Linked DNA regions of Homo sapiens. The protein of the gene in region 1 interacts with the protein of each later gene in a biochemical or structural test. Each region holds a gene or a part of one and is shown on either strand. Other genes may lie near its edges.

Evidence for each region.
Region 2: the proteins of NOD2 (region 1) and IRGM form a complex in vitro, tested with the Homo sapiens proteins (2 studies listed by BioGRID).

What each region holds. Positions count from the first base shown.
Region 1 is NC_000016.10:50,717,588-50,724,614, reverse strand, and holds part of NOD2 (nucleotide-binding oligomerization domain-containing protein 2), read right to left. Parts: intron 4,691-7,027; coding exon 4,607-4,690; intron 1,994-4,606; coding exon 1,910-1,993; intron 1,315-1,909; coding exon 1,231-1,314; intron 1-1,230. UniProt on the Homo sapiens protein: Pattern recognition receptor (PRR) that detects bacterial peptidoglycan fragments and other danger signals and plays an important role in gastrointestinal immunity.
Region 2 is NC_000005.10:150,842,401-150,849,224, forward strand, and holds IRGM (immunity-related GTPase family M protein), read left to right. Parts: upstream 1-4,120; 5' UTR 4,121-4,820; intron 4,821-5,308; 5' UTR 5,309-5,723; coding exon 5,724-6,269; 3' UTR 6,270-6,302; downstream 6,303-6,824. UniProt on the Homo sapiens protein: Immunity-related GTPase that plays important roles in innate immunity and inflammatory response. Acts as a dynamin-like protein that binds to intracellular membranes and promotes remodeling and trafficking of those membranes.

The sequences.
Region 1 (7,027 bases):
CCAGCTGATCAGTCTATATCCATATAAAGAAAATGCCTCATCACACCATGCCCATATAAGGCAAATGCCCAGCTGCAACCAATCAAGCTGTTTTGTACATCACTTCCTTTTCCTGTCTATAGATACTGCTTGCCTACCTTGCTGGGTGGAGCACTCCCAGTTCTGAATGCTGCCCAATTCATAAATTGCTGTATGTTCAAACCAGTTCTGCTAAATTTAATTTGCCTAAAGTTTTTCTTTTAACAGTAATCATAACTGATGCTCTCATAACAAGGTTCTCCTCTACTAAGAAATTCCAAGTGGCAAAATCCAGTCAGGATAGAATCAATCATACTTGAGTAGAGCTAGTAAGCCCTGCAACAGCCAAGGTCCATCCATAAAATCTGTTTATGGCAATGCCCATATGTTGCAGTGCCTTTCTGCTTCCCGGGAAAATCAAACATTCAGTATTTTATCTCCCTGACATAATCTGAAGCTGCCCAGAACATGTCAGAAAACTATACTAGTGGCATCTAAAGGATGAGAAACTTAGAATCTGCTTCAGGTCAACAGTATAAGCATGATTCATGGTTCCTCTTTCAACTATCAAAACTCCATTACACCTTCCAAAATGACCTAAGACTTGAATACCCAGTGCTCCTAGGAACTCAAAATCACTTTAAAATAACAAAACTTTATTAGTAGTAGTAGTCACAGTACTATAGTAGTTGTAGCAGCAGCAGCAGCAGCAGCAGCAGTAATAGTAGTAGTAACCCTGCCATTATTCTAATTTAACATTTATGGAGCACTTACAAATATGCCAGGCACTATATTAAGGTCTTCACAGGCACTACTTTATCTAATTCTTGCAAAAATCCTTTATGGTTGGAAGTATTCTTACCCTCATTTTACAGACATGAAACTTGAGATTCTGAAATTGTTATTTAACTTGCCTAAGATCACGGCCTGCTTGATTACAGAGTCTGTGCTCTTAACACTTATGCCATGTGGAGGCAGTCACCAAACCAGCAAACCCATATATTTTATTAAATAAAAAAATTAGCATGTACATACCAGGCTCTATAAGCTTCATACCACTCAGTACATATAAAGACAAACACAATCAATCAATCAGTCAATCACTCAATCATCCACCTTTGTCTGTCCACACAACCGCTCCTATGGATGAGGCCAGGGGATCAACAGAGATTGTGATCCACTTCCCCAGAGCAGAGAATCCCCCAAACTCACCAGAGTTCTTCTAGCATGACGTTCTTTGCCAGCATCAGTGCCAAGGCTTGGGCACCCACACTGCCAATGTTGTTCCCCACCAGGCTGGAGGTAATCATGGAACAAAAGTATGTCAGAGCAGGGAAAGACCTCAGAGATGAGCTAACCTATGGAGGGCAAAATTCGTGGTGCTCTCCTGGTCTGCTCCATTTCAGACATCACTAATTGATTGCGGTGCTCTTTCTTTTTTCTTTTTTTTTTTTTTTCTACCCTTTTTAGACATCACTAATTGAATGCAGTGCTCTTTTTTTTTTTTTTTTAGCTTTTTTAGACATCACTAATTGATTATAGTGCTCTTCTTTAAGCCCAGGTGCAGCCTTAGAATTCTTTTTAATGTGGTGCACTGGGCACCCACTACCAATGGATTGGAATTGGTCCTTAAGATAAAATGTACCTGATCCAGCCCAATATCTTCAATTTACAGATACTGTATCAAAACCCTGAGAGGACAAGGGACATTTCCAAGTCACCCAGAAAGACTCGAGTGTCCTCTCTTGAAATCCAATGGTCTTTTTTCCTTACTCCATTGCCTAACATTGTGGGGTAGAAATAAAGTTCAAAGACCTTCAGAACTGGCCCCAGCTCCTCCCTCTTCACCTGATCTCCCCAAGAAAACTGCAGGATAGACTCTGAAGCTTACCTGAGCCACCTCAAGCTCTGGTGATCACCCAAGGCTTCAGCCAGGGCCTGGGCCCCCTCGTCACCCACTCTGTTGCCCCAGAATCTGAAAAGGCCAAAAGAGTCAACAGACAGTGTCAGTGAGTACCTGATATGTGTTCTAGACATGAACTAACAGTCCTCCTCCCTCTGCAGTCCCAGCCAGAGGGGCAGGACCACTCAATCCCAGAGTGGCCTCACTGGGGCTCCTGGTCCCAGCAAAGTGGACCTGCCTCCATCTTTTGGGTGGGATGGCCAAACTTAACCCAAGAGTTTTCAGTGGCTTTACATTACAGACTTAGAGAATAGTAGAGGGCTACCCAGCCCTAACCCTTAAGGACAGGAACTCACTGACAAGAGTAATTTACAGTTGTGACACTTTTTCTGACACTTAGTTCAGATACGCTTCCTGGTAACTGCCACCCACAAGTCCTTAGCTACCCTCCAGTACCTGCCCATAACAAGTCTAACACTTCTTCTGCAAGCTAGCTCTTTATCTCCTGCTTCTTCCTAACACCCCTAATTCCTTCACGCCATCAGCTTCAACTCCCCCAGCTTCTGGGCCATCCTCCTCTGACTCACTGTAGTTTGAAAACATCCCTTTCCAAAAGGTAGATCCCAACTCACACCTTCTGACTTATTGACTGTATTCTAGGGACCTACCCTGGACAGGTATGTACACAAGTTAGCAAAGAATGGCTGAATTAGGATGTCCACTGTACTTTCATTCATTAGGTATGTATCGATTGAGCTCTGGCTATGTGCCAGCACTGCTCTGTGCCCCAGGGATATGACACTGTAATAACAAAAAACCTGAAAACAACTTAATAGTCATCAAAAAGTGACCAGTTAAATACATTATGTAACACTCTGCAGCTCTTTGAAAAATGAGGTCAGGCTGAGCAAGGTGGCTCACTTGTGTAATCCCAATACTTTGGGAGGCAAAGGAGGGAGGATCACCTGAGCCCAGGAGTTTGAGACCAGCCTGGGCAACATAGTGAGACCCCGTCTCTACAAAACATAAAAATATCGGCCAGGCATGGTGGCTTGTGCCTGTAGTCCCAGCTACTCAGGAGGCCGAGGTAGGAAGATCACTTGAGCTCAGGAGTTCAAGGCTACAATGAGCTATGATTGCAACCACTGCACTCCAGCCTGGGTGACAGAGTGAGACCCTTTCTGTAAATATTAGTAAAATAAATAAATAGATAATTAAGTAAATAAAGAGGTCATAATGACCTAAAAAAATTCCTATAATATATGGCGAAGCAAAAAAAAACAACAACAAAAACAAAACAAAACAAACAAACAAACAAAAAAAAAAACCAAGCAAGTTACAGAACACTTTGTATCATATGACAGCGTTTGGGGGTTTTAGCACAACGCCTGGCCCAGACAGGTGCCCTAATAAATATGTGTTGAAAGAGGTAAATACCCCTGATGTGGCAGATGTGACCTCAAGCAGAAGAGAGTTCAGTGGGGCTGTGGCCTCCTTTGTTCTAGACTCTGTTGCTACTAATGCAGTGTGGAAAAGATGTTGATTTCTAGAGCAACATAGTCCCATTTGTGGCTCAAACTGAGCTTGGGGGCCGGGTGCGGTGGCTCACACCTGTAATCCCAGCACTTTGGGAGGCCGAGGCGGGCGGATCATCTGAGATCAGGAGTTCAAGACCAGCCGGGCCAACATGGTGAAACCCTGTCTCTACTAAAAATACAAAAATTAGCTGGGCGTGGTGGTGGGTGCCTATAATCCCAGCTACTTGAGAAGCTGAGGCAGGTGAATCGCTTGAACCAAGGAGGCGGAGGTTGCAGTGAGCCAAGATCGTGCCACTGCACTCTAGCCTGGGCAACAGAGTGAGACTACATCTCAAACAAAACAAAACAAAACAAAAAACTGAGCTTGGGGGCAACTTGCCTCCCTGTGAAATGGGCTGGAACACCTAGGCCCTAAGGTTATTCTCTCTTCCTACAGTCCCAGGTTCTAAAACTCCCAGTTCTTGTCAAATGGACTCCAGTTCACACTAGGGCATGACAGGATAGGAGAGAGGCTGCTGGAAACAGCACAGGTGCAAGCCTGGGTGCCTAGCAAACAGAGGAAGCCCACCCTGGGGCTGCAGGTTGGGGTACTCCCCTCCCTGGCAGGCCCTAGCATGGTCCTACAGGGAGCAAGAGCTCCGAGGGACCTAGCACAGCCCCTCTTATCCTGGGTGCCTTCCTATCCTTCCCCATTTCCTTCTCTTTCTTAGGTCAGGGGTCCTCACCCCTGGCTGTACATCCCCTGGGAAGCTTTTTAAAACTCCTGATACCTGGGCCTTGCACCTAGATATTTGCATTTCATCAGTCTGGGGTGGGAGGCCTGGCAATAGTGTTTAGAAGCTTCCAGGTGGTTTTAATATGCAGCTAAAGTACAGCCCTAGCGCCCCCTGAGGATCAGAGGGCTTCCTGTCACCAGCTCGTGGGCACTGTCCTCCCCTAGCCCCAACATCCCAAACTTCCTGTTTGTCAGGCATAGACCAAGTATGAAGGTGGCAGTCAAGGGCCGCCCACTCTCTCCCTGGCTTGTCCTCCCCACTGGAGCTGGGCTGCCTCTGGGGCCTCCTGGCTGAAGAGTTTCACCTGCCCCTAAATCCTCAAAAGTCCCAAGCCCCTCCATGCAGGTCCCTCTTCCTGGAATCCAACCTACCCCAGGAACTGCAAGGAGGTGTTGCCTCGGAGCCCCTCGGCCAGCACTTGGGCTCCCGCGGCAGTGATGTAGTTATTCCCCAGCCTGGAAGGGAAGACAGAGGAGGCTGAGAGAACACAGCGGCAGGCAGAAAAGGAGGGCCGTCTGTGCCCTGGCCAGGGAAACACAGGAAGAAAGCATTGAAGACCTGCCCGGGAGGCAGCAGCCACATCAGGTGCCCTCGCTGCTAGGTCTAGTTTACTCAGCGGCTCCCACAACTTCATTTTCCCCCAGCAAAGGGAAAGGGGCAGCGGGACGCTGTTTGCACAGCAGTGTGACAATTCCAGGCAGGAGCCACAGTAGGCAGCTGTCCTGGGAGGTGGTTTCCCCGGGACAGCGAGGGTGACTCAGGGTCACACCTTTCCCTCTGGTCTCAGCCGCCCTCGATCCAGACCCCATCGTGCCCTCTGCAGCCTTCCCAGATCTGTTGTTGCTACAGGTAGGCTTTACCTGTTGCACAAGAGCGCTGGGCAGGTCCAGGTGGCTGGAGGGAGGGGTGGGGCCCACTGAGCCTTCCAGAAAGGAAGGAGAGAGGGAGGGCCAAGGCTAGGGGTGGGGGAAGATCCCAGCAAGGAAGGCTCCTGCTGCAACTGAATCCAGACACCTCGGAGAGCTTCGGAGAAGCCCCAGAGCTCTCACCTGCAACCCTAGGCTTCCTGGGATAACTATACGCTTTCATTCTTTCAAGGAACGTCAAGCCACTCAGCTCACAACAATCCTATAAGGCAGATATTATTGTATCCTTGGAGAAGGGGTGTGGCAGCTAGGAGAACTCGCCTTTCAGGTCTCCAGCCTCAGCTCCTTGGAGGTAGCCAAGGGCCCCAGCTGCTGTGCTCCAAAATCTAACATCCTCGCATCTGCACTTGCCAGCCCCTGCCTGAGACATCAGGCTCCCCTGCCTGGTGAATTTGGTTCAAGAACTCCTCATCAGCCTTGCCAAGATGTCTTAGGACTGCACTGAAGTCCAAGGTGCCCAGTCTCAACCTTCCTTCCTTCCCTCTCTCCTTCACTCAGGGACACACCTCCCAGCCTCCCCCAGCTCCCTTCCCCACTTCCCCTTTTAGGACTTTTCCCCAATAAATGGGTGGCACATTGAATCCCTGCTTGGAGGACCGGACTCACATAAGGAGAAACAAGCTGAGTGCTTGTGTGATTTACCCATCATCTTTCAGCCACTCGCTTACTATATAAAGCCCCTGCCAGACGGTGCAGCCCTTCATGTGGATTAACTTGCTTGCTCATCACTACAGCCTGTGAGGTAGCCAGGGTTATTACCTCCATTCTACAGAAGGGGAAACGGAGGCACACAGACATTGGGCTGACCTGAGGTCACGCAGCTAATGAGGGTTCAAACCTCGGGCAGTCTGGCTCCAGAGCCTGTGCTCTCTATTACAATGATATACGGTAATCCCTGCCCCCTGCTTATCCGCAGCTTCGCCTTCTATGGTTTCAGTTATCTGAAATCAACTGCAGTCCAAAAATATTAAATGGAAAATTCTAGAGATAAACAATTCATACATTTTAAATTGCATGCTATTCTGATCACGTGCCATCCAGCTCCATCCCACCCAGGACGTGAATCAGCCCCCCGTCCAGCGCATCCACGCTCTATACGCTCCCATTTGGTAATCATCAAGATCGTCTGCTCCTGACATCCAGCTGCCGACCTCATTGTTGCTCAAAGATTAGGGATCTCTGGGAGCAGATGATTCTCCTCCTGAAGTGTGGTCAGGTCAACAGCAGCCCAGCGCTAGAGCACAGTGCTGCATGCGTCATCCACCTCACTTCCTCCCATCACACAGGCATTTTACCACCACACATCTTCCCAAGAAGAAGGGTGAGTACAGTACAAGAAGATATTTTGAGGGAGATGGAGAGAGTCCACATTCACATAGTGTTATTATAGTACATTGATTGTTATAATTGTTCTATTTTATTATGAGTTGCTATTACTCTCTTACTGTGCCTAATTTATAAACTACACTTTATTGCAGGTGTGTAGGTATTGGGAAAAGCATGGTATGTGTAGGGCTTGATACTCTCCATGGTTTCAGGCATCCACTGGGGTCTTAGAACATCTCTCCTGCACATACCGGAGGACTACTGTGTTGGCCACAAACTCAGCCTCCATTTCTGAAACTAGCACCCTTCTCAGGGATGGGCCAGCCAGGTCTGGCCACAGCCTATTCCAGGCTTGTGAGTCTGAGGGATCAGGCAGTGGTAGCAGGACTGAGTCCTTTGTACAAATTGGCACCTGTGGTTCTGATCTCAGTAGCCCTTGCCGAGACTGAGCTATGTGGCCCGCCATTTTAAAATGGCGGCTCCCATCCACAAACCCAGCCCAAGAGGTAAAAGAATAGATGGAAGCAATTCTTTACTTTG
Region 2 (6,824 bases), on another chromosome or scaffold:
GCCTCGGCCTCCTGAGTAGCTAGGACTACAGGCACGCACCACCATGCCCAGCTAATTTTTTGTATTTTTAGTAGAGACAGGGTTTCACCATGTTGGCCAGGATGGTCTCAATCTCTTGGGCTCATGACCCGCCCGCCTCAGCCTCCCAAAGTGCTGCGATTACAGGCATGAGCCACCGCACCTGGCCGAGTTTATTTTTGTGTAAGATGAGAGCTGAGGATCCAGTTTCATTATTCTACATGAATTATCACATTGATTTTTCCCGCAGCCTTTTCTGATAATGATCAAACAGAGGAAAAGCCTGGGATTTGATCCACATTGTTTTCCGGGCACATGGAGTTCTCTGATGCACCAGCCTCCACATCTGTGCTAAGGCCAGGTCTTACTTTGCTATAAGTACCTTTGTTTGGGGATCAAGATAATTGGCATGGAATTAACTATATATAACCTCACATGGGAAATCTATTAATCTGTGTTCTTCATTCTGCATGTTTTACTCATGAAATTAATTCATTGGATTATGACCAGCATTAAAAAACAAACAGATGAAAAACATTCATAGAATGGAATAGGAGTTATAGGGTGTATTTAAGGCAAATTGTTCTGTAATACCTCACATTCACCTGTGTGCAGGTATTTGTGTGCATGTGTACTTGGTTCCTATATGCTCACTTAGTAAATTTAGGAATATGCTCCTTCTAGGATCTGGTTCTTTTTTTTTTTGTATGGCTGCCACTCTGTAATTGAACCTGGTTCCACGACTCCCTTTAGAAGGGCCTCCTCCTCCTCTTCCAAAAGGACTCCTCTGCCCCTGTCTGGAGGAAGGTATCTGGCAATATATCTGGGCAAGATATTCAAAGAGCTGAGCTTGGAGCAATTGTAACCCAGGCTGAATTCTGATGACCTCTTCTAAACTTCCAGGTCAGTGCTCCTGGAGGCTCACCCACACAAACACATAGGCACACTAACAACACCTGGAAGACACACCAACCTCATGCAGAGGAAACCATACCCTCACTGGCCTGGCAGTGACACAGGGGCCTGGGCAGGCATAGCACAGAAGAGTCCTGGTGTAACTGAGATAAAGTATCTCAATTGTACAAATAATTATTTTCGGCTCGGTTGTCTCTAGCGTGCAGCTGGTGAGCCTTCACCATGGGCCCAGGAGAAGCGGATCATATGAACAAGGCCTGGGGATGGGACAGTTGAGCTGGGGCTGCAGGGGCTAAGGCTGTTTCCCATGGGGCTCAGCACTGGTGGACAGGTAAGCAGACAGGTTTGAAGATGCTGGCTCAGTTCACAGACATGGTCACAGAAAAAGCCTGGAAAACTATAGGGTTTTCTGCTGACCTCCCACACTCACCATGGACAGTCAGTACCCTGCACTGGCCCGTGTCGTACCCAAGCAGAGTGTGCTTGAAAATTGGATGTATATTAGTAGACCCCGTGCTCAGCGGGTACAGTTTAGAAAGGGAAGTTAACTTATCTGTCAATTAGTAAGTTAACAACACACAAAGTGTACTATGTTTTATTAATCAAACAAAAATATGTTTAACACCTGCTGGGCACAAGGAGTACAATGGTAAAGAGTTTAATGGAAATGTTTAATGGTTAATGCCAAGACCTGTGTATGTATTAATATGATGCCAATCATTTAATACCTGATGAAGCAATAGTTTCTGGGACTACTTGGGTTAGAAAATGGGCCTGCCACAGGCCCAAGCCCATCCCCTACCCTGCATGTGCTCCTGCTCCACTCCCTTGTGCATCTATCCGGTATAATGTTGTGGGGAAGGGGAGTGCTCGATTCCTCACCTTAACCAGCCTGCCAGCTATCCATGCAGAGACATGTGGGCAAAACTCCTAAGGCCAGACCTCCCCACTCCATTCTCCTGCTAGGCTGCTGAGGGACTCCATTCGAACCTGGTAATTACCCTGCCTCCTTCCCTCCAGATTCCATAGGTTACCTCTTCCTCTTTGCAGACTAACTAAAAGCCACCATATCTAAGTAGCATTTGATGAGAAGAAACTAGTTATTTATGTAAACCAAAATAATTAATGTTACAACGGAGAAACTTTATATAGCAGCCACAGATGAAGCCTGGCATGAGGAAGTCAATGATCAGTTGCTGCTCTCGCCATATGGTGGGTTATAAAATCTTCCCAAGACAAGTGAGGCACCGAGAAATTGAAGACTCATATACATTCCAGAGAACAGGGCCTCTCTCATCCATCTCCTCCATTAGGGCCTTTCTTCATATTTCATAGATAGACAGCTGGAGCCAGTTCTCTGCTTCCTGGGCCCTCTAAAAGGGCCAAAGACTTGGACAAATCCATTGTCCTGGGCACTCAGGAGGCAAGATTCTGTGTGTGCATGAGTGTACGAACATGTGTCATGTGAGAGAGTGTGTGGGCACTGGGCACACGAAGCATGAGGGTAGGTGAGTGAACATGTGTCAGCCTACATGAGTGTATATATATGTGCACAGAGTGTGTGAGCATGTGTGCATCAAACATAAGTTTGTGTGAACGTGGCACCACGAGTGAATTTGTGTGTTTGTGTGTGGGGTAAGTGAACATGTTGCAGCCTGAGTGAGCAAGTGTAGTGTGTGCAACAGGGATGTATGTATTCATGTTTACACATGTCAGCTTAAGTATGTTAGGGTGTGTGAACGTGTGTCAGTGTGAGTATGTGTGGGCCTGTGCACAGAATGCAAGTAAGTGTATGTGTGCATGCCGAGGGTGAGTGAGAGTGTGTGTGTGGGGGGGTAAGTAAACATGGCTGGGCATGGGTGAGTGTGCACACCAGGTATGAGTGGCTGTGTGCAGTGTTGTGTGTGTTCACAATGAGTGTGTGAAACAGACCTGCCAGGCCATGCTAGTGAGAGGTGACAGCATGCTGGCAGCCCTCGCAGCCCTCGCTGGCTCTCGGAGCCTCCTCAGCCTTGGCGCCCACTCTAGTGGCACTTGAGGAGCCCTTCAGCCCGCCGCTGCACTGTGGGAGCCCCTTTCTGGGCTGGCCAAGGCCGGAGCTGGCTCCCTCAGCTTGTGGGGAGGTGTGGAGGGAGAGGCACGGGCAGCAACTGGGGCTGCGGGCGTCGCTTGCGGGCCAGCACGAGTTCCGGGTGGGCGTGGGCTCAGCGGGCCCGCGCTCAGAGCAGCCATCCGGCCCCGATGGCCCCTGGCAGTGAGGGGCTTAGCACCTGGGCCAGCAGCTGCTGTGCTGGATTTCTCCCCGGCCTTAGCTGCCTCCCCGCAGGGCAGGGCTTGGGACCTGCAGCCCGCCATGCCTGAGCCTCTCTCCCCTGCCCCACTCCGTGGGCTCCTGCACAGCCCGAGCCTCCCCTATGAGCGCCGCTCCCTGCTCCACGGCGCCCAGTCCCATCCACTGCCCAAGGGCTGAAGAGTGCAGGCGCATGGCCGGGGACTGCCAGGCAGCTTCACCTGCGGCCTGGTGCAGGATCCACTGGGTGAAGCCAGCTGGGCTCCTGAGTCTGGTGGGGACTTGGACAACATTTATGTCTAGCTAAGGGATTGTAAATACACCAATCAGCACTCTGTATCTAGCTCAAGGTTTGTAAACACACCAATCAGCACCCTGTGTCTAGCTCAGGGTTTGCGAACACACCAATCGACCCTCTGTATCTAGCTAATCTAGTGGGGACATGGAGAACTTTTGTGTCTAGCTCAGGAATTGTAAATGCACCAATCAGCACCCTGTGTCTAGCTCAGGGTTTGTGGATGCACCAATCAGCACTCTGAGCCTAGCTAATCTGGTGGGGACTTGGAGAATCTTTATGTCTAGCTAAGGGATTGTGAATGCACCAATTGGCACTCTATATCTAGCTCAAGGTTTGTAAACACACCAATCAGCACCCTGTGTCTAGCTCAAGGTTTGCAAATGCACCAATCTATACTCTGTATCTAGCTAATCTAGTGGGGAGGTGGAGAACTTTTGTGTCTAGCTCAGGGATTGTAAACACACCAATCAGCACCCTGTCAAAATGGACCAATCAGCTCTCTGTAAAACAGACCAATCGGCTCTCTGTAAAATGGACCAATCAGCAGGATGTGGGTGGGCCAGATAAGAGAATAAAAGCAGGCTGCCCGAACCAGCAGTGGTAACCTGCTCAGGTCCCCTTCCATGCTGTGGAAGCTTTGTTTTTTTGCACTTTGCAGTAAATCTTGCTGCTGCTCATTCTTTGGGTCCACACTGCCTTTATGAGCTGTAACACTCACCGTGAAGGTCTGCAGCATCACTCCTGAAACCTGTGAAACAACGAACCCCCCGGGGAGAAACGAACAACTCCAGACTCGCCGCCTGAAGAGCTGTAACTCTCACTTCGAAGGTCTGCAGCTTCGCTCCTGAGTCAGTGAAACCACGAACCCACCGGAAGGAAGAAACTCTGAACACATCCAAACATCAGAAGGAACAAACTCCGGACACGCAGCCTTTAAGAATTGTAACACTCACCGCGAGGGTCCGTGGCTTCATTCTTGAAGTCAGTGAGACGAAGAACCCACCAATTCCGGTAGGAGTAGGAAATCACATCACCTTCTTTTAATCAGTCTCAAATACCTGGCCCCTTGTGGAACCTGCAAGAGCCAGGTTTGGCGAATGCAATGATAAGCAATTGTCTAATCACTGCCTTGAAAAAGAGCAGAGCATTTGAGTATGCTGTCTCCTCCTCTCCCTCACTTCAGTTGGGCCCAACATGACAGTCTTAATGGAAGCTCGGGGGTCAAAGGCTGGTGGCTTACTTCACGTATATTGCAGCATTTCAGTACTGCTCTGCACGTGTGCTCCCCCGCCTGATGAGGTAAGTGTTAAACAGGGATGATCACAGCTTCAAGTAAGCAATGGGAATTGGATGTTTTATGTCCTCTGGCGCCATCTTCAGCAGAGAAATATATAGGTCACTTTTACTTGTCTGGTTTTGGTCTTGAAATATGTACTGAAACTTGTGAAGGAGCAGACCTATATTAGGATAGAGTAAAAGAGGGAAAGACAAAAACCTCTTGGGCTTTTCAGGAGACTTGGTTCATTCTCTGCTTTTCAAGCCATCTCATGGCCACATGCCTGCTTTGGAGGCTGACTCGGAGGCACAACCGGCCTCAGGGCGTTCCTCAGGGACCCTACCTTTCTTGCTCCCTGAAGAAATGTGCACATTGCTTGAATAAAAACAATCAAAGAACACTCAGTCAAGATCGTCTGCTGCAGTCTTCGTTGAGGGCTGGGGATGCTAAAAGTCAGATGATTCATGTGTACCCTGTCCATCCTAACTCACCTGCTCTTCTACTTCCGCAGCTTACTCCAGTGCCCACAGATACGACAGAGTGTCCCAAGTGCCCCTCACACTCTATTAGCTGCATCCTTAACCTCTTTTTGCCACACCATAAGCATTGGGTTTTGTTTGTTTTGAGATGGAGTCTTGCTCTGTTGCCAGGCTGGAGTGCAATGGCGTGATCTCAGCTCACTGCAATATCTGCGTCCAGGGTTCAAGCGATTCCCCTGCCTCAGCCTCCTGTATTAGCTGGGACTACAGGCGCACACCACCACGCGCAGCTAATTTTTTTGTATTTTAGTAGAGAAGGTTTCACGATGTTGGCCAGGATGGTCTCAATCTCCTGACCTCGTGATCTGCTCGCCTCGGCCTTCCAAAGTGCTGGGATTACAGGCATGAGCCACGGCGCCTGGCCAGCATTGGGGTATTTTATTGAAGATGGAAGCCATGAATGTTGAGAAAGCCTCAGCAGATGGGAACTTGCCAGAGGTGATCTCTAACATCAAGGAGACTCTGAAGATAGTGTCCAGGACACCAGTTAACATCACTATGGCAGGGGACTCTGGCAATGGGATGTCCACCTTCATCAGTGCCCTTCGAAACACAGGACATGAGGGTAAGGCCTCACCTCCTACTGAGCTGGTAAAAGCTACCCAAAGATGTGCCTCCTATTTCTCTTCCCACTTTTCAAATGTGGTGTTGTGGGACCTGCCTGGCACAGGGTCTGCCACCACAACCCTGGAGAACTACCTGATGGAAATGCAGTTCAACCGGTATGACTTCATCATGGTTGCATCTGCACAATTCAGCATGAATCATGTGATGCTTGCCAAAACCGCTGAGGACATGGGAAAGAAGTTCTACATTGTCTGGACCAAGCTAGACATGGACCTCAGCACAGGTGCCCTCCCAGAAGTGCAGCTACTGCAGATCAGAGAAAATGTCCTGGAAAATCTCCAGAAGGAGCGGGTATGTGAATACTAATTCCTGTCTTCATTAAACATTTTCCATCTCCTCCTATTGATTCCTTTTCTCCTTTATTTCACTGGACTCATTGAAACACACCTGGTGCAGAAGGGTATCTTACAATTTTCGGGGGCATGTAGAGAGTGTGGTTGTGTTGTTCTTTGAGATCTTTTGAGTGTTGGGGCCAAGATTCCCAGGCAAGGCTGCTTGCTTCGAAGGTCCTTTCCCTTCACGGAACTCTCCACCAGGTGCTAAAAATGATCAGTGTCTTAAAATGGATGCAAGATTATATCATCAGGGTCCTAGCACTCTCAAACTGAGTCATAATGAGGGTATTTTCAAAGGTGTGGACAGGGTGCAGGGAGACCACCAAGACAAAATGTTAACCCCACGGTATAACCTCAAGGCAAGTAATGGTCGGGAGGAGCCCTCTCCAGGTTCGAACAGGCAAGTAGAGAGGCAGGTTGCTTGAATCTCAAGATGGAGTTTATCAGTAATAATAAAGACTTCTGGGCTTAAAAACACACAACTGAGATCTACAACAAAACCTCTAAAACAGAAAAAATAGTAACC